Homo sapiens: one gene and its partners. The protein of the gene in region 1 purifies or fractionates together with the protein of each later gene. This does not show direct contact. Each region holds a gene or a part of one and is shown on either strand. Other genes may lie near its edges.

Region 1 (7,899 bases):
ACTGGTGGGGGTGGGGAGTGGGGGCAGGGTGGGGATGGTGGGAGATATTAAACAGGTAGAATCTATAAGGACTGGCAAATGAGAGTGTGGGGCCGTGGAAAGTGAAAGGGAAGCAGGCCGGATGCGGTAGCTCACGCCTGTAATCCCAGCACTTTGGGAGGCTGAGGCGGGTGGATCACCTAAGGTCAGGAGTTCGACACCAGCCTGGCCAACATGGTGAAACCCCACCTAAAAATACAAAAATTAGCTGGGCATGGTGTCAAGTGCCTGTAATCCCAGCTACTCAGGAGGCTGAGGTGGGGGAATTGCTTGAACCTGGGAGGTGGAAGTTGAAGTAAGCAGATATCGCACCTCTGTACTCCAGCCTGGGCAACAGAGCAAGACTCTGTCTCAAGGGAAGGAAAAAAAAAAAAAAGCTGGACTGGGCAGCTGAGTGAACGATGGTAACATTCGTGGAGATGGAGATAAGTTGTTGGCGTCTAAAACAGTGCCTGCAGTTATACCTGGCCCAGCATTGAAAACAGTTCCCAGCCCTGGTAGATACAAGTTGGCTCAATGCTTAAGAACAATTTATTCGGAGAAATGAGGAAGAAGCTGGTCTGCCCTTAGTTGATAAGGGAATGGGAATGAAAGACTGATAGGAGCTGGAAGAGGATATAGGGTCATGGTGGAGGTTTCTTCCTGATATGACAGGCCAGGGGTGTTTGGAGGAAAAAGCTAGTAGAGAAGTTAAAGGCGTAGCAGAGGAAGTGAGTGATAAAGCAGGATCCTGGAATAGCAAGGGGACGGTAAGCAAAGATGGAGAGCTGAGTGGCGAGTAGCGGGGTGAGAGCTTCTTCCACGTGTACAGATGGATGTTAGCAGACTCCCTCCCCACTCCTGACTGCCTGACTCTTCTCAGTGAACGCATCCTATGCTAAGAGGTATCACAGAACATTTCAGGAGGTGTTACAGACTTGGACTAGTAGAACCAGGCAATGGGAGAAGGCATTGAGAGATGCTGATTGCTGAGCAGTGCTGAGAGCCAGTTGGGGTCATCTTTCTTCAGCTGGCTCAGTGGCTGTGCTGGAGGAACAAGTATTGATTCACAACTGATCCATGTCGGTATCTGGCAGGTGAAATGAAAGGCCAGATTTTACAACAGCATTGAGGGCTGAGGCCAGAGAGTGCTTGATTAAGTGATGAACCAATGACAATAGTGAGGATGCTGATAACAGTAATCACAGCATATCAAAATAGGAAACTGTAAGGCCAGGCGCGGTGGCTCACGCCTGTAATCCCAGCACTTTGGGAGGATGAGGCGGGCTGACTGCTTGAGGTCAGGTGTTTGAGACCAGCTTGGCCAACATGGCAAAACCCCATCTCTACAAAAAATTAGCCAGGCATGGTGGTGGGTGCCTGTAATCCCAGCTATTTGGGAGGCTGAAGCAGGAGAATTGCTTGAATCTGGGAGGCAGAGGTTGCAGTGAGCCGAGATTGCGCCACTGCACTGCAGCCTGGGTGACAGAGCCAGACTTCATCTCAAAAAAAAAAAAAAAAGGAAACTGTTAAGCCCCACATCCTTTGATTGTCTTGATTAAAACCATGAACACAGCTAGTCACAAACTACTATAAGATTTGATTAGAAGTGTTGGCCGGGAAGAAGTTTATTGACACTAACACGAGTGCTTTTTAGAATACAAAACTCAGTTGTCACTGGAAAGATGAGGGAGAAAACTGAAGAATATTTACAAATAAGTTATAGTGGTGAGCATGCACATACATACAAAAGAGCACTAGTCAGGTTGGTTAAGGTCTGTGTAAGTTAGATATTGACCTACTTTGTATTTTGTCTTCATGAAATTGAGTTTCTGGCAGGTCTGTTTGCTATGATAATTTGTCTTTTGAATGGAGATTATCTTAAGAGAATGTAGTACTTAATCTCAAAGATAGGATTACTACAAAGCCTGTTTTTTCATGTTTGTTGTCAGAAACTGAATTTACTACATGTTATAGAAAACTGCATTTGTTAGATGTTTAAGAATTGGGTTTATCCATCTGTTATAATACTCATCACAGTGTCCATGTGTATAGTTTGCCAATGTTGACCTCACTGAATTGTTTTTTTTTTTTTTCTAGACGGATTCTTACTTTGTTGCCCAGGCTGGAGTGCAGTGGCACGATCTCAGGTCATTGCAACCTCCGCCTCTCAGGTTCAAGCGACTCTCCTGCCTCAGTCTCCTGAGTAGCTGGGATTACCCACCACCAAGCCTGACTTAGTTTTTATATTTTTAGTAGAGACAGGGTTTCAACATGTTGGCCAGGCTAGTCTCCAATTCCTGACCGCAGGTGATCCACCCGCCTTGGCCTCCCAAAGTGCTGGGATTACAGGTGTGAGCCACCATGCCTGACCTCATTCTGTAACTCTATCATTTTAAAAGTGGCATCAATTCACTTGCTCTTCAGAGAGAACCAAAACCCTTTGTCTTTGCTTTCTCTCTAGAGGCCTATTTGACCAAAATAAACTCGGTGTGTAAATCACAACACAAGGCATGTTTCTTTGTCAACAATAATGAACATTTATTGACTACTTTTTAAATGCCAGGCACTGTGCTAAGCACCTTTTCATACATTATCTTACTTGGTCCCCACAACAGCCCTGTGAGGTAGGCACAACAATTATCTGTCTCTTACAGATGAGGCTGAGTAACTTTTCTAACAATCCTCTAGTAAACTGTATTATAAGAAACTGTTTGGCTTGGAGAAGTGAAAGCTCTGGGGAAAAGGCAGCCACAATAACTACCGTCAAATTATCTGAGTAGATTCTTTGGGGTAGAGTGATTAGCTCCTTGGATCATAGCACCAAGAGGTAAGGACGTAGGGGTGAAAGTGACAAAGAGAACATGCAAAATGAAAGGGATTTTTCTAGCACAATGTAAGGTTGGAGAAGGAATTTAAGTACTGGATGGGGTTGAAACAGACAGCTTTGGAGGGCATCTATCAACTGAGTCTACTATTCTCTTCCTTCTCTGTATTCTCCACTTCTTTCGAGTCATCGCATATACTGGTACATTCATTCTTTTTTTCCATTCAATAAACATTTACTGACCTGCACTATCCAATACAGCAGCCACTATCCAAATGTGGCTATTTAAATTTATTAAAATTAAGTCTGGGCTGGGCCTGGTGGCTCAGGCCTGTAATTGTAGCACTTTGGGAGGCCGAGGCAGGTAGATCACCTGAGGTCAGGAGTTCAAGAGCAGCCTGGCCAAAATGGTGAAACCCCTTCTCTACAAAAATAAAAAAATTAGCCAGGAATGATGACGGGTGCCTGTAATCCCAGCTACTCAGGAGATTGAGGTGTGAGAATGCTTGAACCCGGGAGGCGGAGGTTGCAGTGAGCCCAGCCAGTGCCACTGCATTCCAGCCTGGGCGACAGAGCAACATGCCGTCTCAAAAAAAAAAAAAAAAAAAAAATTTGAGTCCAACAAGAAATTCAGTTACTCAATTGCACTAATCACATTTCAAATGCTAACTAACCACACTTTTTTTTTTTTGGGGATGGAGTCTCGCTCTGTCACCCAGGCTGGAGTGCAGTGGCGCAAACTCGGCTCACTGCAACGCCACCTCCCTGGTTCAAGCAATTCCCTTTCCTCAGCCTCCCAAGTAGCTGAGATTATAGGCGCACACCACCACGCCCAGATAATTTTTTTTTTGTATTTTCAGTAGAGACGGGGTTTCACCGCGCTGTTTCAGGCAGCTTAGGTAGTGATGGTGGCCACACGAATGAAAAATCTGAGTCCTTGACCTTGAGGAGCTTATGGTCTAGTGGAGGAAAAAGAAAACATCCCACCCAACATTATTCATTAAGAACTAGCGCTTACGTAGCTCCTTCTGTAAATCGAGCAGTTTGTGTTTTTTTTTCCCCAATAATCCTTTTGCCCTCCTAAAATCAGGCAGTTTGCTAAGCACTTTTTGTGACTATCTGGTTCCATCTTCTTAACACCATCGAAATAGGTGCCATTATTATGCCCACTTTGCAGACAGGGTCATAAGTTAAATAATTTGCCCAACCTAAGTAACAAATACTGAGTAGAGCCACAAAGGAAGATGTGCTCAACTCCGCCTGGGGAGGTTAAGGAAGGTTTGAAGCAAGAAGGGACTAAAACCCGTTTGTCCACACCATGGTTACTGAACGTGTGGGCCACCGACTACCTACGTTAGGATTACCTGGGGTGCTCTTTTAAAAAGTGCAGATTCCCTGCATCCCAATTTGAAGCTCTGTGGGCGGGGCCTGGGAACCTCCGTTTATAACAAGATCCCCACCCCGGCCCCCGCCCCAGCAATTCCTTTCGGTTCACTAACCGAGGTTTAAGAACCAATGGTCCACACCGCATGGTTCTCTTTATTCAGCTTTCCCTCGCCGTTCCCTTGCCTTTAACCTCACTACGGATCGCGATTGGAGTCCGCGCTGCGTAACCTCGGGCCAGCCTCTCCGAGCCTCAGTTTCCCCATGCGTAAAATGCGGAGCCCGGGCCCGCGGAGCCGCTGCCCGGCGGCCCCGCCCGTCAGCCGACAGGCGCACAGTGGGCGCTCCCCAAACGCGGCCCCCGTCCGGCCGCCCGGGTCCCGCCCCTCTCGGCCAGCCCAGGTTTCCTACCCTTGCAGATCTGCTCCCACAGATTCTTGCTTGACGGCTCGGTGACCTGCCACGACGAGACAGGCAGCTCGCGGGACGCGAGAGACACGGTGGGCACCGGCGTCCGGGTGAACGACGAGTCTGTAGAGCAGCTGGGCTTGAGGCGCACTATGTGGCTGGGGATTTGCCGCGGTGCCGCCATGGCCGCGGTTTCCACGGTAACCGCGTTCGCCGGAAGGCCGCGACCCGGAAGAAGCCGGAACCCGAGAGGGTGGGCCGGCGACTCGAAGTGGACTTCCGGGTCACGGCGGAGCTGGCTCTCACGTGGAGGCGGGGAAATTTCGCCCACCGGTGAGTGCCAGGGCGCGTTGCAGGCGGGCCGGCGCGGGGTGTGGAGATTGCACCAGAGGAAGTGCGCGGCGGGGAAGATGGGGAAATGCGGTCCACCCACATCCCTGAATCCGACCCCTCCAGTCGGTGTGCGCCCGCTCCGGCCTGAGGCCGCCGCCTCCAGAAAGTTTTCCCGCCTCAGAGCCGGCCCTGGGACCCCACGTAATCCCTCCCAGTCTGTTGATGCGGAGGCTTGGGCCCATGGGAGCCTTGGAGGTACGGATCTTACTTCCTGGCTCCCGCGCGTCCTGCTGGTGATCCTGCCGGGGGAGTGGGGTGTTGCTGCACAGGCTTTGGAGTCCTGTGGGCGGAATTCCAGTCTCCGTTTTCCACTTGCTGGCTTTGGAACCTAGGGCAAGTGAATTATTGTAGTCTCTGGAGCTTGCGAGGTCGGGTATTCACAAAGATCTTCACAAGGCTGTCCCTGGAATTTAAAAGCGGTTTTGGAGAAAGCGTTTGCGTTTGCAGGAGATGCACTGTAACGTTCTTTTCCTTTCTCCTTGAAAGAGTGAATGCATTTGGTCGCAGGGCTAAAGAGGAGGATGCTATACTTTTCTAAATGGCAAGAGATGGGGAGAGAAGGGGATTAAGAGTTGACCCGCAACCTCCCGGTGGATTCTTTGTTCTTACCAGATCTCTTGGCCACTCCCCTATTCTGAAGTCGTCTTGGCTCTCTTGACTGCTCCCCTATTCTGAAGTCGTCTTGGCTCTCTTGACTGCTCCCCTATTCTGAAGTCGTCTTGGCTCTCCTGACTACACTATTTCAAGGTTTGCACCTTCTTCTTTGCAAGCTCCTTTATCTCTGCCCACTTATTTAAATGCCAATACAATAGTCCCCCTCCCCCATTATCCGCGGGCAGTACGTTCCTAAACCCCCAGTGGATGCCTGAAACCACAGACAGTACCGAACCCTAAATATAACTGTTTTTTCTTGTGTATACTATCTATGAGAAAGTTTATAAATTAGGCACAGTAGGGCCGGGCGTGGTGGCTCATGCCTGTAATCCCAGCACTTTGGGAGGATGAGGCGGGCGGATCACCTGAGGCCAGTAGTTGGAGACCAGCCTGGCCAACATAGTAAAACCCCGTCCCTACTAAAAATACAAAAATTAGCCGGGCGTGGTGGTATGTGCCTGTAATCCCGGCTACTCGGGAGGCTGAGGCGTGAAAATTGCTTGAACCCGGGAGGTGGAGGTTGCAGTGAGCCGAGATGATGCCACTGCACTCCAGCCTGGGCAACAGAGCCAGACCTTGTCTCACAAAAAATTAGGTGCAGTAAACGATTACCAACAATCTAGCTAGTAATAAAATAGAACAATTACAACAGTATACTGTAATAAAAGTTGCATGCATGTGGTCTCCCTCTCAAGATAACTTCCTGTACTGTGCTCACCTATTTTGGGACCAGGGTTGACCAGGGGTAACGGAAACCTGGGATTAGGTGGCGAGCTACTGTATTTCTTGAAGTCTTGTCTCAGGCTTGTTCTGTTCAAGGCTTATCACCACCCATACATTCCTAACTTTATGTCGCCCGTGTCAGCACGGCCACCCAAACTCCTCATCCATATATATTCACCTGTCCAGTGAACATCTCCAAGTCATCTGTCCAATCAAGCCTGTTCTTCAGCCACTTGCCTTCAGTACCTTTGTCTCAGGGATTAATACCACCATCCTGCAGTTGTTCTTCAGAAATTTTCCTGACAACTGGTAGGACAGGTTCCACAACCTCCACCACCCTGACCTTAGCACTGTCCTTGCTTTTATCACCTGTATCATTGTATTACACCTTATTCCCTCCCACACCTACTTGCTTCTTGATGGGTGGTGTTTTATCTTGTTCATCTCTGTATCCCTAGCATGTGTGCATTCATTCAGTGAGTATGTATTGAGCACCTGCTATGTGCCAGGCACTGAGCAGGACACTGGAAATAAACCAGGAAACAGGGCAGACAGCAATGAATGAGTATAGTTATTCCCTTGACTCTCCAGGTGCGCCTGGAGTGGGTTATGAATGAACTTGACCTGTAGCTCAGGCCTGGCTCTTTGAAGCTGCTAAGAGAGAGCCAGCTCCAGTGTGGACCCTCTGAGTTCCGAAGCTGAGGAGGGCTGCAGGATGGAGAAGTTTTTCCTTTCCCTCCCATGATCCTAACTTGCTATGAAATATTTTGGGATATTTTGCTTCTAGATTCTGGGAATGTCTAGTGCAGGAACTTGGCTGGGGACTGGAGTGAGAGCAGTGGTCCAGCTGGACACTGATGGGTATTGAGGACCCCAGCCCATTCTCACAGGTGCTTCCACGATATCTGTCCAAGACAAGCTGGGTGCCCTCAGTACTGTGCATCATTGTGACTCATTCAGTGTTGGCAATCAACTTCAAATTTTAAAAACAGTGGAACTAGGCCAGGCAAGGTGGCTCATGCGTGTAATCCCAGCACTTTGGGAGGCTGAGGCGGGCGGATCACTTGAGGTCAGGAGTTTGAGACTAGCCTGGCCAACATGGAGAAACCCCGTCCCTCCTAAAAAAGAAAAAAAAAATTAGCTGGGCATGATCACGGGTGCCTGTTATCCCAGCTACTCAGGGGAGGCTGAGGCAGGAGAATCACTTGAACCCAGGAGACGGAGGTTGCAGTGGGCCGAGATCACGCCACTGCATTCCAGCTTGGGTGACAGAGCAAGACTCTGTCTCAAAAAAAAAAAAAAAAAAAGAGAAAAAGAAAAAGGGAATTAACAGTGTACCAAGCCCTTTCCATGGGTTATCTCATTTACTCCCTCCAACACCCTTTTGAGGAGGGAGGTGTTATATTCCCCCATTTTCCAGATGGAGAAATTGAGGCTCAGGGAGGTTAGCTGATTTACTTAAGGTGAGAGAGGCATTTAGGTTTGAACCTAGG
Region 2 (7,232 bases), on another chromosome or scaffold:
AGGCGTGGTGGTGCACACCTGTAATCCCAGCTACTCGGGAGGCTGAAGCATGACAATCGCTTGAACCCGGGAGGCGGAGGTTGCAATGAACCGAGATTGTGCCATTGCACTCCAGCCTGGGTGACAGAGTGAGACTCTGTCTCAAAAACAACAACAACAACAACAAAAAACGGCCAGGCACAGTGGCTCACGCCTGTAATCCCAGCACTTTGGGAGGCTGTGGCAGGCAGATCATGAGGTCAGGAGATTGAGACCATCCTGGCTAACACGGTGAAACCCATCTCTACTAAAAATATAAAAAATTAGCTGAGCGTGGTGGTGGGCGCCTGTAGTCCCAACTACTTGGGAGGCTGAGGCAGGAGAATGGCGTGAACCCGGGAGGGGGAGCTTCCAATGAGCCAAGATCATGCCACTGCACTCCAGCCTGGGTGACAGAGTGAGGCTCTGTCTCAAAAAAAAAAAAAAAAAAAAAAAATCCTTTGGCAGTTTTATATCTGCCAAAACTGACCTGTACATTTTACTGTATGTAAATGATGCCTCAGTTAAAAATAAAATGATTTCAAATTGTGTTCATTGCTATGAAGAAAATATAAAGGATGCTATGATATTGATTAAAGGACCTGGGAAGGCTTCTCTGAGGAACTAATACATTTAAGAGAAGACCTGAGAAATGAGGAGTTAGCCAGGTGCTTACCAATGGTGCCTGATGTGCTTATAAAATCTAAAATCATGGCCAGGCGCGGTGGCTCACGCCTGTAATCCCGACACTTTGGGAGGCTGAGGTGGGTGGATCACCTGAGGTCAGGAGTTCGAGACCAGCCTGGCCAACATGGTGAAACCCCACCTCTACTAGAAATACAAAAATTAGGTGTGGTGGCACACACCTGTAATCCCAAGTACTCGGGAGGCTGAGGCAGGGGAATCGCTTTAACCTAGGAGGTAGAGGTTGCAGTGAGCCAAGATTGCGCCACTGCACTCCAGCCTGGGCAACAGAGTAAAACTCGGTCTCAAAAAAAAAAAAAAAAATCTAAAATCATTGACTGCAAGGCCCTCTATGGGCCAATCCTGGTCTACTTCTCCATCCTCATCTCCTCCTAACCCCCATGTGCTCTACACTTTAACCACACTGGGCTTCTGGGGTCTTTAAATACACCTTGATCTTTTCTCCCGCTGGAATGTTCTCTCTGCCTGGAGTGCTCTTCCTTCTCTCCTTTACATAGGTAACTCCTCATTCTTCGGGTCCTACCTTAAATGTCCGTTCCTCAGAGAAGCCTTCCCAGATCCTTTAACCAATATTATAGCCTAGCATTCTTTATTTTTTCTTCGTAGCAGTAAGCACAATTTGAAATCATTTTATTTTTAACTGAGGCATAATTTACACACAGTAAAATGCACAGGTCAGTTTTGGCAAATGTAAAACCAAATAGCCATTACCCTAATTATGATTAGACCATTAAAAAGACCATTTTTAATCATCCCAGTAAGTTCCTATGTGACTTATTCCAGTTAGTGGTCATGTATTTGTCTATGTACTCATTAACTGCTTACTGGCCATCAGGCTAAGCTCCATGAAACCAGAGAGTTCATCTTGTTTGTTGTCTGACCTCAGTGCAGAGCCTGACACTTAGAGAGGAGAAGGGTCAGTCAATATTTGTTGAATGAATGAAAAAAATTTTTTGAGTAGGTAAGATGTAGAAGGTGAGACAGAGAAGGAGGGCAAAGAGGGAGAAGGAGCTGCTGTTAAATATATATATATTTTAAATTAGAGACATTTATTTATTTATTTATTTATTTAAAAATAGGTATTGCTTTGCTGCCCAGGCTGGTCTCAAACTCCTGGCTTCAAGCAATCCTTCTGCCTTGGCCTCCCAAAGTGCTGGGATTACAGGCATGAGCCACAGTGTCTGGCCTGTTGCCTTTTTTTTTTTTTTTTTTTTTGAGACAGAGTTTCACTCTTGTTGCCCAGGCTGGAGTGCAGTGGCACAATCTCGGCTCACTGCAACCTCTGCCTCCCGGGTTCAAGCCATTCTCCTCCCTCAGCCTCCCAAGTAGCTGAGATTACAGGCACACACCACCATGCCTGGCTAATTTTCATATTTTTAATAGAGACGGGGTTTTACCATGTTGGTCAGTCTGGTCTCGAACTCCTGACCTCAGGTGATCCACCCGCCTCAGCCTCCCCAAGTGCTGGGATTACAGGCGTGAGCCACCACGCCCGGCTGCCTGTTGCCATTTTTTGAATGCCTAAGAGGTATGAATTGTTTCAGCCAAAGGCCATGCTGGCTGAACACTTCTCCACCAGGAGAATAAAATAGCCCTGATTGGGTTTGTTAATATTGCCTCCTCTCACGGGATCTTCTGAATCTCACTTACCTTCCTCTTTCTCTGAGTAGGTGATGGTTCCTCCTACTTTACAGAGAAAATTGAAGTTATCAGCCAGGAACTTTCAGAAATCGTGGCTCCACACCTACACGTTTACCTGTAGTTCCACCCCTCTTATTTTCTTTCCCTTCTGTTACAATGAAAGAAATATCCCAGGCCTGGTGCAGTGGCTCACGCCTGTAATCTCAACACTCTGAGAGGCCAAGACAGGTGGATCGCTTGAGGCCAGGAGTTCGAGACCAGCCTGGCCAACATGGCGAAATTCCGTCTGCACTAAAAATATAAAGATTAGCTGGGCGTGATGGCACATGCCTGTAATCCCAGCTACAAGGGAGGCTGAGGCAATGAGATATCACTTGAACCCAGAAGGCGGAGGTTGTGGTGAGCCAAGATCACGCCACTGCACTCCAGCATGGGTAACACAGCAAGTCTCTGTCTCAAAAAAAAAAGAAAGAAATATCCCTGTTTCTGCCTAAGCCTAATCCATCTGCCACTGGGTGCTGCTCCATTCTTCTCTTGGAGCTTTTTTGGTCCCTTATCTTCTTTCTCTGTAGTTTCTTTTACCGTCTTCCTCCATACTTGTTCCTTCCATCAGCATTTAAACACAATCATGTTTTCCCTTCTTTAAAAATAAAAAATAAAGGAAAGTTCCCTTAGCTTTCCATCCCCCTCAAACATCTATCCCCTTCTCATCTTCAGAGCCAAGCTCCTTTGGACTGTCTTTTCTCACCTTCACCTTCTCACCTGGTACACTCATCACTTTACTGTTAATGGCCTCCATCCCAGCACTCAGTGAAGGCATTCCAGCCACAGCCACTGTTGATGACCTTGTTGTCAGATCTGTTAAATACCTTATCCTCTGTGTTCTTGACAGTCCCACAGAATTTGACATTCTCTTGGCTGCTGTAACACCACACTTGCATGATTTCCCATTCGCTCTGGCCACATTAATCTCTCACAAGCTCTTCCAAAATGCTGGCTTTTCTCACATGTGTACATTCTGCCCTTTTCTCATACCATCACTCCTTGAGCAACATGAAGCTCCTAATTGCCTCTCTGTGGATGACTCCCACGTCTCTATTGCTGGCCCAGTTGGCATTCCAGCTGTGTCTGAATTCTCTGTTAGAATGTCCCCAGATGCTTCAAATTTAGCATGTTCCAAACTAAACTATTTCCTCCTAAAATACGGGGCTTCCCCTATGATCTCTGCATCTGGCAATGGCATTGCCATCCACCTGGTTGCCCAAGCCAGACTCTGAGTATCATCCTTCCCTCTTCATCCTCACCTCTCCAGTCTAGTCGACCAGCCGACTTAGTCTTATCCTGTCTCCTGTCTTCCTCTTCACTATGTCCAGAGGTTGTCCACTTCTCTTTTTAAAAATTTTTTAAATTAATTTTTTATTTTATTTTATTTTGAGACAGGATCTCACTCTGTCACCCAGGCTGGAGTACAGTGGTGCAAAAACAGGTTGCTGCAGACTCAACCTCCTGGGTTCAAGTGATCCTCCCACCTCAGCCTCCCGAGTAGCTGGGATCATAGGCGCATGCCACCATGTCTGGCTAACTATTTTTTTTTTTTTTTTTTTTTTTTTTTTTGTAGAGACGGGGTCTTGCTATGTTGCCTCGGCTGGTCTCCAACTCCTGGACTCAAGCAGTCCACCTGCCTGAGCTTCCTAAAGTACCAGGATTACAGCTGTGAGCCACCATGCCCGGCCTAAGATCTTTCTTCAGTCTTGGCCAGGTGCAGTGGCTCACACATGTAATCCCAGCACTTTGGAAGGCCAAGGTGGGTGGATCTCTTGAGCTCAGGTGTTTGAGACCAGCCTGGGCAGCATAGTGAAACCCTGTCTCTTAAAAAAAGTGTGTATGTGTGTATTTCTTCAGTCTTGATGGTATTAACAAGACTTCTTCCAGGTGTGTCCTGAGAGTCTCTGGTCATGTAGTCTGTGGTAGATTTTTCACTGAGATATGATTGTCCTCTTCAACCTAAAAATCGCCTTGGAAAATAAGCCAAACAAGCTATACGTAGACATTTTAGGAGTATTGGGGTTCTCTAGTTCTTTATATGTGGTATCTCCTCTATGCTTATTAATCAGAGTCACATCGTACCTGGTGGTTTTTTTTTTTTGAGGCGGTGTCTCGCTCTGTCGCCAGCCTGGAGTGCAGTGGCACCATCTCAGCTCACTGCAACCTCCGCCTTCCAGGTTCAAGTGATTCTCCTGCCTCAGCCCCCCGAGTAGCTGGGTCTACAGGCGCCCACCACCACGCCCAGCTAATTTTTGTATTTTTAGTAGAGACAGGGTTTCACCATGTTGGCCTGGATGGTCTCGATCTCTTGACCTCATGATCCACCGGCTTTGGCCTCCCAAAGTGCTGGGATTACAGGTGTGAACCACCGTGCCCGGCCCCCATGCATGGTGTTTAATAAGCTCTTGTGGCTGGGCATGGTGGCTCACACCTGTAATCCCAGCACTTTGGGAGGCCGAGGCAGGCAGATCACTTGAGGTCAGGAGTTCGAGACCAGCCTGGCCAATATGGCGAAACCTGGTCTCTACTAAAAATACAAAAATTAGCCAGGCCTGCTGGTGCGTGCCTATAATCCCAGCTACTTGGGAGGCTGAGGCAGGAGAATCACTTGAACCTGGGAGGTGGAGGTTGCAGTGAGCCAAGATCATGCCAGTGCCCTCCAGCCTGGGGGAACAGAGCGAGACTCCGTGTCAAAAATAAATAAATAAATAAATAAGCTCTTGCTTTCAAGGAAACCCTAATCTAGTTGGTTTTTGAATAGAGTAGATTTTTAGTACAGTAAAACAGTCTGTGAGATTTAAAATTTTTTTTCTGACTTTAAAATATTTGTATTAAATGTAGAAATGTTGAAATTTAGAAGAATATAAATCTAAAAATCAGTCATCTGTAATCCTGCTTCCTGCCTAATGGCAGCTGTTACCAATATTTATATATATATTTTATCCCACTGTGTCATGCTATATATATGAAATGTGTGTGTATATATACATATATACACATATATACGTATGTATACACATATATGTATATATGACATATAAGTACATATATGTATGTATGACATATATGTATGTTACATATAAGTACATATGTGTATGTATATGATACGTGTATGTATATATGACATATAAATACATATACGCACATATGTAATATATATTATATATATACACACACACATACACTCATATAGTTTGAGTATCTCAAATTCAGAATGCTCCAAAATCTGAGACTTTGTCAACGTGATGGTCAAAGGAAGTGTTCTTTGGAGCTTTTGGGATTTCAGATTTTCAGATTTGGGGTGCTTAGCTAGTAATGCAGATATTCCAAAATCCCAAAAACCCTAAATCCAAAACACTTCTGGTCTCAAGCATTTCGAATAAGGGATACTTGACATATATATGTATATATATATAGTTCAGAGTATATTCTATATGTAGTTTTGTATTCTCCTTTTTCCTCTAAAGCTCATATCGCACATTTCTGTGGGATCCAGGTAAAAAATCTCCACCCAACCATAGCACAACACAGATTTATATCAGAAAAGTAGCTAATTTTTGACTGCCAGGATTAAGCTGCTTTTGACAAAGTTATATGTTTAGCCCATGTGTTCCTGATGGTTAGCTTCCTCTTTATGATCATGCACTACAAATGGAGGGGGATTCTCTTTTGTATTTTCTCTTAGGTAGTTCGAGGACACTACAAAGGTCAGCAAATTGGCAAGGTAGTCCAGGTGTACAGAAAGAAATATGTCATCTACATCGAGCGGGTGCAGCGTGAGAAGGCCAACGGCACAACTGTCCACGTGGGCATTCACCCAAGCAAGGTATGGTCAAGGACTGAGTGGCAGTAGCAGCCATGGAGTGTGTCAATACTGTTCAAAGTTATTGGTGTTTTGGTACTCCCTGCACAGTTGGCTGAGGCAGGCCAGGTGGACTTGATTGATTCAGTAGCTTTGTGATATCATCAAGGATCCAGATTTTTCTTCTCTTCTCTTTTCTGTTTTGCCTTTCTTGGTGATGGCTGTGTCTTTTTTTTTTTTTTTTTTTTTTTGAGACGGATGCTCGCTCTGTCACCAGGCTGGAGTGCTGTGGTGCGATCTCGGCTCACTGCAACCTCCACCTCCTGGGTTCAAGCAATTCTCCTGCCTCAGCCTCCCAAGTAGCTGGGACTACAGGCACACACCACCACGCCCAGCTAATTTTTATATTTTTAATAGAGATGGGGTTTCACCATGTTGGCCAGGATGGTCTCGATCTCCTGACCTCGTGATCCGCCCGCCTCGGCTTTCCAAAGTGTTGGGATTACAGGTGTGAGCCATCATGGCCGGCCGATGGCTGTGTCTTTAAGCTGGTTGCAAGAGGCTTCCAAGTGTTCTAGGCATCACTTCCCCTACCACATAATATTCAGAGGAATAAGAGAGAATATATCTTCCTGTAGCCCTCATGCCTACCTAGTGGAACATGCTATTTTTCCTTTGTGTTCCTATTTTGTATTGTGTTACAGGGTCTGTTTTCCTTCCAGAGTTTCAGTTCCTTAAAAGCTGAATGGCTGAGGTCTTACTTAACTTATGATGTCTATATTGCTCAATAGCTGGTGGGGATGCAGAAATAAAGACCTGTTTTCTCACTCCCAACAGGTGGTTATCACCAGGCTAAAACTGGACAAGGATCGGAAAAAAATTCTTGAACGCAAAGCCAAGTCTCGACAAGTTGGAAAAGAGAAAGGCAAATATAAAGAAGAACTTATTGAGAAAATGCAGGAATAAATAGAACCTGTTGTGCAACCACGGTTTAACCGGAGATTTTGAGGCTAGGGTGTGT
Region 3 (7,281 bases), on another chromosome or scaffold:
GGCATTTTTAATATTTTCATTGAGTTTCGGTTCTCTCTTCTCAAGGAATCTCTTGGCTCTTTTCGTTTTGGGCTTTCTGTTCAGAAAAGCACAATTCATAACTATTTAAACATTTTCCTCACATTGCAAAGCCATGACTTAACTAATATGAAAATTCTTAAAAACATATTTGTCACTTAGGGTTCCACCCTTAAAAAAAATCTCACTTTCTTTTTTTTGTTTGTTTTTTTTTGTTTGTTTTTGAGATGGAGTCTCACTCTGTCACCCAGGCTGGAGAGTGATGGCACAATCTTGGCTCACTGCAACATCCACCTCCTGAGTTCAAGCAATTCTCCTGCCTCAGCCTCCCGAGTAGCTAGAATTACAGGCACACACCACCACGCCTGGGTAATTTTTGTATTTTTAGCAGAGACAGGGTTTCGCCATGTTGGTCAGGCTATTCTCGAACTACTGACCTCAGGTGATCCGCTCACCTCGGCTCCCAAAGTGCTGGGATTACAGGTGCGAGCCACAAGGGCCGGCCAAAATCTCACTTTTTTGGTAGATATTAGTAAAAGATATTTCCTTATTATTGTTAAATAAGTGTTTTGATAGCTTTTAAAAAAAAGCTTTCATTTTTGTATTCCCACCATTCTTTTATTACTGCTCTTTCCAATCTTTTTTTTAAGTAAAAAATAAAAGGCTCAAGTAAATACTGTTGCTGTTTTTTTTCTCTTACTCTTTCTTACTCTTCTTTTTTCTTCAAACTTTAAGTAGTCAAACTGTATCCTGTACCCTAATACAAAGAATTGAGCATCAACTGCTGATCAACCTGTGGACATTTACTAAACATAAGACTAACGACTGCTTATTTTTCTTTTAGGTTTAAGACCACAATGCCTGCCAGGAAGTATACACTGTTGCACTCCAACATCATTGCTGAGAATGCCAGTATTATTGCCAACAATGGGGAATAATAAGGCTGATGTTTACATGGAGTCACTCTATTAAGGCTTAATCTTCACCACAATCCTGAGAGTTACAATTCTTATTTATTTATTTATTTATTTTTTTGAGACAGAGTCTCGCTCTGTCGCCCAGGCTGGAGTGCAGTGGTGCGATCTCGGCTCACTGCAAGCTCCGTCTCCCAGGTTCACGCCATTCTCCTGCCTCAGCCTCCCGAGTAGCTGGGACTACAGGCGCCCGCCACGACGCCCGGCTAATTTTTTGTATTTTTAGTACAGACGAGGTTTCACCGTGTTAGCCAGGATGGTCTCGATCTCCTGACCTCGTGACCCACCCCCCCGCCTCAGCCTCCCAAAGTGCTGGGATTACAGGCGTGAGCCTCCACGCGCGAGTTACAATTCTTATCTTCACTTTACAGATGAGGCAATTGAACAGACAGGTAATGTGCCCAAGATCACACAGCAAGTAAACAGGCCAATTTTTAAAATGAGCTAGGGCTGGGAGGTGGCCCACAGCCTGTAATAAAAACACTCTAGGAGGCCAAGGTGGATGGATCACTGAGCCCAGAAGTTCGAGACCAGCCTGGGCAACAATGCAAAACCCTGTCTCTACAAAAAATACAAAAATTAGCTGTGGTGGTGTGCGCCTATAGTCCCAGCTACTCAGCAGGCTGAGGTAGGAGGACTGCTTGATCCCAGGGAGGTCGAGGCTGCAGTGAGCTGTGATGGGGCTACTGCACTCCAGCCTGGGTGACAGAGTGATACCCTGTCTCAAAAAAAAACAAATTTTTTAAAGCTAGATTTAAAAATTCGTCTAGACCAATTACCCTGTAAAATATGAAGGGAAAATAAATTCATTATTCTGACTTTATGATGTGACAGTAGGAGTGGCATGTTTTTACACACTTCTGTTCAAAAGAGGGGCTTCACCTCTGCTTCCTCTACAATGAGCACCTTGCTTTTCAGACAGTTCTCTGCCATCTACTGAAAGAATTCTTCCTCCCAAATAATTATGACCCTCCCTCGTCCAGTCCCATGGACACTTTGGGAAGAAAAAGAGACCATACATACACTTAAGTTTCCCATGTAGATTTTTAAAATACTCCTCCAGATATAATGTCACATATAAAGCTTCTGATCATTTACTGGTTGATAAAGATACAAATTATTCTATCTTTTGTATCTCATTAAACAGCAACAAATGCAAATAGCAATTAACATGTTTTATTAGCTGCCTGCTCCCAATTAACGTGTGAACTAGTCCCAATACCTAGTAAACTACTCTTTGTAGTCCAAACAGCTAGAGGCATAGCAGGTGTGCAAAATCTCTGAATGACTAAAACTGTCGTTTTGGATACATGTTAACTTAGGTAAATAGCAAGAAAATCACAGCAAGTAACAGCAGGGCTGTTTAGCCCAAATATTCTTGAACAAATTTAAAACAGGTATCATTCAAGGATAACTCAGAGGAGTGTACAAAGTTGGAAGGAAAAGAAAAAACTAATGAACATTTCTACGTGCTGCAGCAAAGGCTCTACATACATTCTCGAAACTAACCCTCACAGCTCTATGAAGTATGACTATGGTGAGCGCTATTTTACAGAATAAGCTAAGATTTAGAGATATTTAATGACCCAAAGTCACAAAGCTTTAAGTGGACGCGCCAGACTGTCACTCAGATCTGTCGGATTCCGAGGGCTGTGCTCCTAACCCCACTATACCATCTGTCTCATACTTCGGAAGTCAGACGTTTTTCAACTGGCTAGGATAAAAGCGGCCAACGCTTCAATCCCACATCCCTCCCATCCCACGGCTCCCACTTGAGAGCTTCCCCACTGTCTCCTGGCAAGCAGCTCGCGCTGAGGAGGACCCGGGCTGGTGATCGATCGGCCCCCACCCAGGTAATTAGAGGGGTAACCAGGAAGAGTGAGAGGCCGAGACAGTACCACCCTCATCACGGGACCCTTTCACCCCAACGCTCCCCGGGGCTGAGACCCAGCGCACTTACACTACTCGATCCAGAGTGTCCATCGCTACCGCTACCTGCAACTCTTAACCAGGGGGCATGCACGTGCCCTCGGCGATTACGTGCGCCGGAACAGGCGGAACCGGAAGCTGCGCGTAACGCCACTTCCGGGGACGGCCTCGTAGAGGGCGTCTAGAGGCGCTGGCGGCCATCTTGATTGGAATCGCGCCCTGTTGTCTTGGTTACGGATTTTTGCCCCGGCTCTTTCCTGGAGTTACAGGTGCGAGGTAATACTTTTAAGTAACACTGGCCGGGCGTGGTGGCTCACGCCTGTAATCCCAGGATTTTGGGAGGCCCAGGCGGGCGGATTACCTGATAACAGGAGTTCGAGACCAGCCTGGCCAACATGGCGAAACCCCGTCTCTACTAAAAATACAAAAATTAGCCGGGCGTGGTGGCGGGCGCCTCTAACCCCAGCTACTCGGGAGGCTGAGGCAGGGAGAACTGCTTGAACCCGGGAGGCGGAGGTTGCAGTGAGCGGAGATCGCGCCACTGCACTCCAGCCTGGGTGACAGAGCGAGACTTCGTCTCAAAAATAAAATAAAAATAAAATAAAATAACATAGACCCTCGCAGTTTGATGTACGCGCTAGTGTGCATACCTGGAGTCAGGTATTCAGAAACCAGATTTTATTCTTCAAGGAATCCCAGGATGCTAGAAAGGTTGATTGATTGCACGGTAGGTACTCACATAAGCACTAAAAACATTGATGTGAAAGGGGCACTATTGACAACTATGCGATCTGTGTGACAGAATTTATGACTACCACAGTTGCCTAGTACATAAAAGATGCGCAGAAAATGTACTGCTGTTCGTGATTTTTCCCCAGTTTTTAAGTTACCATATACTTCACATACCATAAAATGTACCCCTTTACAGTGTACAATTCAGTGATTTTTGGTGTATTCACAAAGATGTGCAAATATCACCACTAATTCCAGAATATTTAATCACCTCAAAAAGAACCCCCCTGACACACACACCCAGTAGCAGTCCATGCCCCACTTCCCCCTCCTGCCAGCCCTTGGCAACCAATAATCTACTTTATGTTCAATGGATTTGCCTATTCTGAACATATATAAATGGTTTCGTGCAACGTATGGCCTTTTGTGTTTGACTTCTTTCACTATCTTTTTGAGGTTCATACATGTAGCGTGGATCAGTACTTCCATTTTGTTAGGACTGAATAATATTCCTTTGTATGGATATACCACATTTTGTTTATCCATTTATCAACCTAGGTACTTTTTTTATTTTAGACATAGTCTTGCTCTGTCGCCAGGGCTGAAGTGCAGTGGTGCGATCTTGGCTTACTGCGCCGTCCACCTCCCGGGTTCAAGCAGTTCTGCCTCAGCCTCCCAAGTAGCTGGGATTACATGCACGCACCACCACACCTTGCTAACTTTTGTATTTTTTAGTAGAGACAGGGTTTCACCATGTTGGCCAGGCTGGTCTTGAACTTCTGAGCTCAGGTAATCCACCCGCCTTGGCCTCTCAAAGTGCTAGGAATACAGGCGTGAGCTACTGTACCCGGCAGCTTATGTACATTTGAATGGTTCCTATTTTTTGGCTATTATGGATTATGCTGCTTTGTGTTTTTTTGTTTTGTTTTGCTTTGCTTTGTTTTGTTTCTGAGACAGAGTCTCACTCTGTCACACAGGCTGGAGTGCAGTGATGCAATCTCAGGTTACTGCAACCTCCATCTCCTGGGTTCAAGTGATTCTAGTGCTTCAGCCTCTCGAGTAGCTGGGACCACAAGCGCGTGCCACCACACCCAGCTGCTTTGAATATTAGTGTACAAATTTTTGTGTGGACATACATTTTCAATTCTCTAGGAGAAAAATTGCTGGGTCATATGCTGACTCTTAAGTGTAACATTTTGAGGCACTGGTAAACTGTTTTCCAAAGCACCTGCACCACTTAAATTCCCATGAGCAATGTAAGAGAGTTTGGTATTAGTTTCCTATTTCTGTTGTAACAAATTATCACACATTTATTATTTTATACTTCAGGAAGTCAGAAGTCTGAAATCAGTTTTGCAGGTCTAAAATGTAGGCCGGAAGCAGTGGCTCACACCTGTACCCAGCACTTTGGAAGGCTGAGGTGGGCGGATCATGAGGTCAGGAGATCAAGACCATCCTGGCTAACACCATGAAACCCGATCTCTACTAAAAATACAAAAAATCAGCCAGGCGTGGTGGCACGCCTCTAGTCCCAGCTACTTGGGAAGCTGGGGCAAGAGAATCACTGGAACCTGGGAGGTGGAGGTTGCGGTAAGCTGAGATCGCACCACTGCACTCCAGCCTGGGCAACAGAGTAAGACTCCGTCTCTTAAGTAAATAAATAAATAAATTAAATAAATAAATAAATAAAATGAAGAAGTCAGTAGGACTACATTCCACCTGGAGGCTTCAGGGGAGAATCGGTTTCTTGGCTTTTTCCAGCTTCTGTAGACTGTCTGCATACTTTGGCATTTCTCCATCTTCAAAGATCATCAGTTGAACTTCTTCCATTGTCACATCTTTTTCTCTGATGCTCTGACACTCCTAACTCCCTCTTAATAAAACCCTTGTGATTACATGGGCATCACCTGGATAATCCATGATAATCTCAAGATCCTTAATCGTATAGCAAATTCCTTCTGGGCATATAAAGTAACATATTCACAGATACCTGGGGGTTCTCAACATCTTTGGGCTGGGAGTTGAAGGAAGCATTGTTCTATCTACCAAAGGTTCCAATTTCTCCACTCCTCACCAAAACTTAGCATTGTCCATCTGTTTTATTAAGCCATCCTAACAGATATGAGTGGTATCTCATTGTGATTTTCATTTCCTTGATGGCAAGGCAAATGATGGTGAGCATGTTTTCATGTGCTGATTGATTACCCATTTTTATATCTTCTTTGGAAAAATGCCTATCCAAATCCTTTGCCCGGTTTTTAAATTGGGTTGTCCTTTTATTGTTGAGTTCTAATATTTTCTCATGTATTCCAGATATAAGTCCCTTACCTGATACATAATTTGCAAATATTTATCCCATTTAGTAGGCGTTATCTTGTTGTTAATGTGCTTTTCAGCACAGATCTTTTGAACTTTGTTGAAGCCCAGTTTACATATTTTTTCCTTTTGTTGCCTGTGCTTTTGGTATCATATCTAAGAAGCCATTCCCTATTCCAACATCACAAAGATTTACCCTATGTCTTCTTTCAAACATTTTTAATTGCAGCTCTTATATTTAAGCCTTTGGTCCATTTTTATTTTGATATATGGTGTGAGATAGGGGTTCAACTTTATTCTTTTGTATATGGATATCCAGTTGTCCCAGCATCATTTGTTGAAAAGATTATTCTTTCTCCATTGAATTGTCTTAGCATCCTTTTGCAATATCAATCGACCATAATTGTAAGGGTTTATTTCTGGACCCACAATTCTATTTAATTGATCTGTCTGGTTTTCATTATGCTAGATCCACAGCTTTGATTACCATATAGCATTGTAGTAAGTTTTGAAACTAAGAAATGTGACTTTTATGATTTTTCTCTTTTGCAAGATTGAATTTCCATATGAATTTTAGGGTCAATTTCTCAATTTCTGCAACAAAGGCAGCTTGGATTTTTCTTTTCTTTTTTTTTATGTTATTTTATCAATTGATTTTTTTTTTTGAGATACAGTCTCCTTTTGTTGCCCAGACTGGAGTGCAGTGGTGTGAACACAGCTCACTGCAGCCTTGACCTGGGCTCAAACAGTGCTCTCACCTCAGCCTCCCGAGTAGCTGAAATCACAGGCATGCACCACCACGTCTCACTAATTTTTAAATTTTTTATAGGGATGGGGTCTCATGTTGCCCAGGCTAATCTCAAACGGCTAGGCTCAAGCAATCCCCTTGCCTCAGCCTCCCAGTGTTCAGATTATAGAAGTGAGCCACAGCACTCGGCCTGACTTCTTTTCCTAGTTTGTTGAATGCTTTTTATCATGCAAGTGTGTTGGATTTTGTGTGTGCTTTTTCTGCATCTATTGAGATGATCATGTTGTTTTTTCCTTTATTCTATTAACATTTTGTATTACACTGATTTTCATATGTCCAACCAACCTTATATTCTTGGAATCAATCCTATTTGGTCATGGTGTATGATCCTTTTTATATGTTACTGGGTTCAGTTTGTTGATAGTTTGCTGAGGATTTTTGTGTCTATATTCATCATATTGGCCTGTAGTTTTCTAGTGGAATCTTTGTTTGGCTTTGGTATTGGATCAATACTGGCCTAATAGATTCAGATGGGATGTATTCCCTCCTCTTTAGTTTTTTGGA
Region 4 (7,232 bases), on another chromosome or scaffold:
TGGGAAAGCTGAGGTGGGAGCCCGGGAGGTCACTTGAGCCCGGGAGGTCAAGGTTACAGTGAACGATGATCACATCACTGTACTCCAGCCTGGGTGACAGAGAGACCTTTAGAGAGTCTAAAAAAATAAAAGCTGTGGCCGGGCGTGGTGGCTCACGCCTATAATCCCAGCACTTTGGGAGGCCGAGGTGGGCAGATCACGAAATTAGGAGTTTGAGACCAGCCTGGCCAACATGGTAAAACACCGTCTCTACTAAAGATACAAAAAATTCACCAGGCATGGTGGTGCGTGCCTGTGATCCCAGCTACTCGGGAGGCGGAGACAGGAGAATCGCTTGAACCCGGGAGGTGGAGGTTGCAGTGAGCCGAGATAGTACCATTGCACTCCAGCCTGGGCGACAGGGCGAGACTCTGTCTCAAAAACTAAAAAAATAAAAGCAGTAAAATATTGGCAATTTCATATTTATACGCATTTTAAAAATGTTTAAACGTCATGCAGGCCAAATAAAACACATCTGCAGGTGACACCTGATCTCTGATCTATGTACTTCATTCACCAGTGAGTGATTGAGACTGATAGTTGAGATTGACTGATTTCCTTTTCCATTTTTTCACTTTTTTTTTTTTTTAGCTTTGCCACTGGCAGACAATCAAAATCTACAAGATTATATTACATGAATGAAATCTCTAACATTTGTTGAATACTCACTGTGTACTAGGTGCCATACTAAAAACATTACATATATTAAATTTTCGCAGTAACCCTATAATGTATGGTGGTTTTTTTGTTTGTTTGTTTTATTTTGAGACAGAGTCTTGCTGTGTCAGCCAGGCTGGAGTGCAGTGGCACGATCTCGGCTCACTGCAACCTCCGCCTCCTGGGCTCAAGCAGTTCTCCTGCCTCAGCCTCCCGAGTAGCTGGGATTACAGATGTGTGCCACCATGCCTGGCTAATTTTTGTATTTTTAGTAGAGACGGGGTTTCATCATGTTGGCCAGGCTGGTCTCGAACTCTTGATGTCAGGTAATCCGCCCACCTTGGCCTCCCAAAGCACTGGGATTACAGGCATGAGCCACTGCGCCTGGCCGTATGTTCTTTGTTAACCCCATTTTACCGATGAGAAATCAACGTTTAGGTTAAGTATTTTGCCTAAGATCGAATAGCAGGTGAGTGATGATATGAAATTAGAATCATCACATGTAATCTGTATTAACCTTTTAGTACAAAGTAGTATACAGTATAAGTTAACTAGCAATGTGACATGTAGACACTTTTAAAATTAGCTTTAAAGATAGGGCACAGTGGCTCATGCCTGTAATCCCAGCACATTTGGAGGCTGAGGTGGGTAGATCACTTAAGCTCAGGAGTTTGAAACCAGCCAGGGAAACATAGCAAAACCCTGTCTCACCAAAAAATACAAAAATTAGCCAGGTGTGGTAGTGCGCACCTGTAGTTCAGCTATTTGAGAGGCTGACGTGGGAGGATCGCCTGAGCCCAGGTGGTCGAGGCTGCAGTGAGTCAAGATGGCACCACTGCACTCCGGGGGTGAGAGTGAGACTCTGTCTCAAAAATAAATAAATAAATAGGCTTTAACATTTAGTATGCTTATAAACAAAATCTTTGGGGCCTGGCACGGTGGCTCACATCTATAATCCCAGCACTTTGGGAGGCCGAGGCACGTGGATCACTTGAGGTCAGGAGTTCGAGATGAGCCTGGCTAACATAGTGAAGCTCCATCTCTACTAATAATAGAAAAAATTGGGCTGGGTGCGGTGGCTCACGCCTATAATCCCAGCACTTTGGGAGGCCAAAGTGGGCGGATCACGAGGTCAGGAGTTCGAGACCAGCCTGGCCAATATGGTGAAACCCTGTGTCTACTAAAAATATAAAAATTAGCTGGGCGTGGTGGCACTCGCCTGTAGTCCCAGCTACTAGGGAGGCTGAGGCAGAAGAATCGCATGAACCTGGGAGGCAGAGGTTGCAGTGAGCCAATACCGGCCACTGCACTCCAGCCTGGGTGACAGAGTGAAATTGTGTCTCAAAAAAAAATAAATCATTGGGATAAAATGTTAAATAAAACATATGTAAAATTATATATGCAGCATGATTTCAGTTACAGTCATGCATCAGTTAAGGACAGAGATAGGTTCTGACAAATCCATTTGGTGATTTTGTTGTTGTACAAACCCAAACCTACTACACAGTAAAGCCAGCTACACACCTAGGCTATGTGGTGTGGCCCGTTGCTTCTAGGCTACATACCTGTACAGCATGTTACAATACTGAATACCGCAGGCAATTTTAAGACATTTACCTACATGTATCTAAACATAGAAAAGACACTAAAAATATGGTGTAAAAGATTTTTTAAAAGGTACACCTGTCTAGGACAGCTTTGTTATAAGATTATGGGGCCACCATGATATATATGGTTCATCATTGACTGAAACATTGTTATGTGGTGCATAACTATATTAAAAAATGAAAAAAGGAAAAAGCTATATATGGAAAATGAGACTAGGGCCAGGCTCAGTGGCTTATGCTTGTAATCCCAGTGCTTTGGGAGGCCAAGGCAGGAGGATCCCTTGAGGACAGGAGTTCAAGGCCAGCCTGGGCAACATAGCAAGGCCTCATCTCTACCAAAAAAAAAAAGTTAGCCGGGCATGGTGATGCGTGCCTGTAGTCCTAGGTACTGGAGTTCAAGGTTGGAGCAAGTTATGATATCACCACTGCACTGCAGCCTGGGCAACAGAGCGAGACCCTGTCTCCAAAAAAAAAAAAAAAAGAAAGAAAAGAAAATGAGACTAGAAAGAAATTAATTTGGACAGTAGGACTTACTTTTCTTCTTCCTTTTTTCAAATATTTTTCAAATTTTATTTACTAAGAATGTTTTAAAACAAAACAAATTTTTAAAAAATTAAAAGCAGAAGACACTAAAAGGCTTTGTGAATTAGTGTAAAATTTGACAGAAATGAAATTGAACACAAGAACTAAAGAAATTTTAAAAATAAGTTTTAGGCCGGGAGAGGTGGCTCATGCCTGTAATTCCAGCACTTTGGGAGGCCGAGGCGGGCGGTTCACCTGAGGATCCCAGCTACTCGGCAGGCTGAGTCATGAGAATCTCTTGAACCGGGGAGGAGGAGGTTGCAGTGAGCCGAGATCACGCCCTTGCACTCCAGCCTGGGCAACAGAGTGAGGCTCGGTCTCAAAATAAATAGTTTTAAAATTTGTGTTATGTTTCTTTTCACTGGTGAAACAAGATGTAGCTTAGGAAAAATAATATCTTTGCTTTTGTACTGCATAAAGGAATAATTTTTTAATGTTAAATATAGTGTATTAATGGAACTCCAGTCTAGGTGACAGAGTGAGACCTGAGACCCTGTCTCCAAAAACAAAAACACAACAAAACGTGTGAGCAAACTAGGAATAGAAGAGAACTTCTTAACCTAATAAATGTCAGCTATAAAAAACATAGCTAACATCATACTTAATGATGAAAGACAATGCTTTCCTTATAAAATCAGGAAAAAGAAAAGATTGCCACTCACAACCGCCAACGTTTTATTGCAGGTCCTAACCAGTGCAACAAGGCAAGAAAAAAGATATAAAATACAAAAATTGGAAAGATAAAAGTAACCATTCTTAGGTGACATATTTGCTTACATAGAAAATACTAGGGAATGAACAAAAAAACTGCTAGAACTAATAAGTTTAGTAAGTTATGAGGATATAAGGTAAATTTACAAAAACTTTATTTCTATATATTAACAGCAAACAATTGAAAACAATGACAATTTTAAAAAACAGTTGCATTTACCATAGCATCAAAAGGCATACTTACTTAGGAAAACAGTTAACAAAAAATGTGCAGAACCTTTGCACCAAAAACTACAACATATTTTCAAGAGGAATTTTAAAAGCTAGCATAACAAAACCCCATCTCTACTAATAATAGAATAAACAAGGTGTGCTGGCACATGCCTGTAATCCCAGCTACTTGGGAGGTTGAGGCACGAGAATAGCTTGAACCTGGGAAGTGGAGGCTGCAGTGACCCGAGATTGTGCCACAGTACTCCAGTCTGGGTGACAAAGCAAGATTCCATCTCCAAAAAAAAAAAAAAAAGACAAGTCTCACCCTGTCTTCCCAGACTGGAGTGCAGTAGCATGATCATAGCTCAGTGCAGTCTCAAACTCCTGGGCTCAAGTGATTCTTCTTCCTCAGCCTCCTAAGTAGCTGGGATTATAGACACCACGCCCAGCTAATTTTTTTTTATTTTTTGTAGAGATGGGGGTCTCACTATGTTGCTCAGGCTGATCTTGAACTCCTGGGCTCAAGTAGTCCTCCCACCTTGGCCTCCCAAACTGCTGGTATTGCAGGTATCAGCCACCATGCCTGGGCAACAGTGGGAATTCTAACACATGTTTTTGGAAATGTAAGTTGGTTGGGCCACTCTGAAGAACATGTAGTGAAGCTAAGGTAGGCATACCCTCCAGCCTACCAATTTCTTTGCTAGTGATACTGAAGCAGGAGAATAGGGTCTGGAGGCAGGGAACCTAAGGCCGATTCACAGTGACTTCCTAGAACTGAATCAAAAGGAGAACTCCACCTCTCTACACCCAAGTAACAAAAGGATCAGAGGCTACTCCCTTTGCACTGTATTACAGATAAAAAATGGAAAGTACCTCTGACTGGTCCCCTCCTACAACCAATCAGACTGGTCCCAGGCCAAGTCTTCATGTGTAACTTTGTAGCTTTGCTTCAGCCTCTAATTGGTCGCCTCCCTCCACCAGACTGGTGGTGGGCCAAGTCTTCATTTACATAGGGTGTAACCGAGTAACCAGTGGGAAACCTTAGAGGGTATTTAAACCCTAGAAAATTCTGTAACCAATGCACTTGAGTGGCTTGCTTGAGCCTGCTCCCACTCTGTGGAGTATCTTTTCATTTCAATAAATCTGTGCTTTCATTGCTTCATTTTTTCATTGCTTTGTGCATTTTGTCCAATTCTTTGTTAAAAATGCCAAGAACCTGGAGGACTCATAGGCAAGACCCTCCATTGGTAACAGAAGGATATAATATTTCTTTAAAAATACTGAAAATTATGGCAAGTATGTCAAATACGGAGAAAATAATTTTTTTTTTTTGAGACAGAGTCTTGCTCTGTTGCCCAGGCTGGAGTGCAGTGGCATGATCTTGGCTCACTGCAAGCTCCGCCTCCTGGGTTCACACCATTCTCCTGCCTCAGCCTCCTGAGTAGCTGGGACTACAGGCGCCCGCCACCACGCCCAGTTAATTTTTTGTATTTTTAGTAGAGATGGGGTTTCACCCTCTTAGCCAAGATGGTCTCGATCTCCTGACCTCGTAATCCGCCCACCTCGGCCTCCCAAAGTGCTGGGATTACAAGCGTGAGCCACCGCGCCCGGCCAGAAAATAAATCTTGTTGGTAGATACATGGGTGTTTATTATTCTCTGTACTTTTTTGAATATTGAAGTAGATCATACCAAAAGTGCAAAAATAAAACAACAGCTAACAGGTGAGGGAGTGGAGACAGTGAATGGGAATTGGCTCTTTTGAAAAGACCTGTTCCATCTGACTCCCATCACCCTTGGCTTCCAGACTCCAGACCTCTGTGGCACACAGTGCTGCAGCCTCCTCTTTTATATTATCTATGATCCCTTTCCTCTTAGCCACTACATTTGGTTGATGGGATTGGTTGTCTCAGAAGACCTTCATTTGAATCCTAGCTCTACTACTGGCTGTGTAGATCTCTGGGCAAGGTAACTTCTCTCACCCTCAGTCTCCTTAACTCTTAAATGGTAACAGTAATGTATTCTTTTTTCATTGATAGGCAAATATATATTGAGTACCTACTGTGTGCCCAGCAGCTACATTAGGTACAGAGATATGCTGGTGAAGACACCTGCTTTAGCAGTGATTCTTAACCTTCAGTCTCAGAATTGCCTGTGAAGTCCTGAAAAAATTAAACATAACTGGGCCTCACTATGGAAAACACTAATTAGGTCCAGAATTAATGCATCGGGTTGGGGTGCCTCTGTCTGTAACATCCCTTCACAGATGATTACAGTACTCAGGAGAGGTTGAGAATCTTTATGCCAGTCTATGGTCTGTGGGAGCAGGAATTGTGTTTTTCTTGTTTCTCATTATATTCCTAGAGCCTGGCACATGGTAGGTGCTCAATAAGTATTTGCTTAATTCTGAATAAGTAAAAGAAAAAAGACATTGTCACTGTCCTCAGAAACTAATAGTAAAACATGTTCTATGAGTGTTAAATGAAATAAAGTATGTCATAATGTTGACTGAGCTACTGGCAAAAAGTAGATGCTTAGTCAATTTTTGTTGAATCTTATATGTAATTTCTAAATCCCCATCTCTAGCCTTAGTCACTGGCTTCTAATAATTATATTAATACACACTAATTAATATGCATATAATCACAATTTTCTGTTGCTTATAGAACTCTTATCAGTGTTCTACCATCACCTCAAATACTGCATTTCTAAACCTGAAAGTTGCTTCTTTTGCCTCTTTTCTTCCTCCTTGATCTAGCTCTCTTCTAATTTTTGTCACTGACACCATCTTTTTTCCATTTGTCCAAGCTAGAAGCTTCTTAGTCATCTTTGAATCTTTATTTCTCCCGAGCCACATTTTATGATCATAGCTTGATGCTGAATCCCTATGATAGCACCATGAAGCAGTAGGGTGTAGTGGTTAAGATGGACCAGTATGAGACTGAAAATTTGATTTCTAGCTTTGTCACTTGCTGGCTCAGTGAGCTTAGATAGGTTACTCTGTCTGTATCACCTGTAATCTGCCTGTATTACCTGTAAATAACCTGAAATTCTGTCTGTATCACCCATAATCTGTCTGTATCATCTGTAAATAACCACAGGGAAATTGTAAGAATTAAGTGGTTGTAAGGTGAACACTGGCTAACATATAAATGCACTGTAACTGTTAGCTATTATTGCTAAATATTTTGTCTCTTCAGTTAAATTGTAGCTCCATGAAGATGAATATCATGCTGTTTCTTTTTTTTGGTACCCCTTCTGAAGCACCTAATCGCACTAGAAGGCACATAAGCAGGCTCGAAATACCTGTCAGATTTGGGAATACAGTAGTTACTTTGTTTTATGTTTAATATTAAAACATCCATTTTTCTTTAAAGCCTGATAAATAATTTTAGGACTTCTTTAGAATCTAATTCTTGCTATCT

What was found.
Region 2: the proteins of KNOP1 (region 1) and RPL26L1 purify together in Homo sapiens (affinity purification with mass spectrometry; 3 studies listed by BioGRID and IntAct, with this or other methods). This does not show direct contact.
Region 3: the proteins of KNOP1 (region 1) and RPF2 purify together in Homo sapiens (affinity purification with mass spectrometry; 2 studies listed by BioGRID and IntAct, with this or other methods). This does not show direct contact.
Region 4: the proteins of KNOP1 (region 1) and SRSF12 purify together in Homo sapiens (affinity purification with mass spectrometry; 2 studies listed by BioGRID and IntAct, with this or other methods). This does not show direct contact.

The regions. Positions count from the first base shown.
Region 1 is NC_000016.10:19,715,228-19,723,126, reverse strand, and holds the start of KNOP1 (lysine-rich nucleolar protein 1), read left to right. Parts: upstream 1-4,899; 5' UTR 4,900-4,969; exon of another isoform or gene 4,970-5,046; coding exon of another isoform or gene 5,047-5,224; exon of another isoform or gene 5,225-5,776; intron 5,777-7,899. Other genes in the region: IQCK (IQ domain-containing protein K), read right to left, coding at 4,640-4,820.
Region 2 is NC_000005.10:172,962,365-172,969,596, forward strand, and holds part of RPL26L1 (ribosomal protein uL24-like), read left to right. Parts: intron 1-6,094; coding exon 6,095-6,235; intron 6,236-7,048; coding exon 7,049-7,177; 3' UTR 7,178-7,232.
Region 3 is NC_000006.12:110,977,801-110,985,081, reverse strand, and holds the start of RPF2 (ribosome production factor 2 homolog), read right to left. Parts: upstream 3,045-7,281; 5' UTR 2,976-3,044; coding exon 2,953-2,975; intron 77-2,952; coding exon 1-76. UniProt on the Homo sapiens protein: Involved in ribosomal large subunit assembly. May regulate the localization of the 5S RNP/5S ribonucleoprotein particle to the nucleolus.
Region 4 is NC_000006.12:89,108,000-89,115,231, reverse strand, and holds part of SRSF12 (serine/arginine-rich splicing factor 12), read left to right. Parts: intron 1-7,232. UniProt on the Homo sapiens protein: Splicing factor that seems to antagonize SR proteins in pre-mRNA splicing regulation.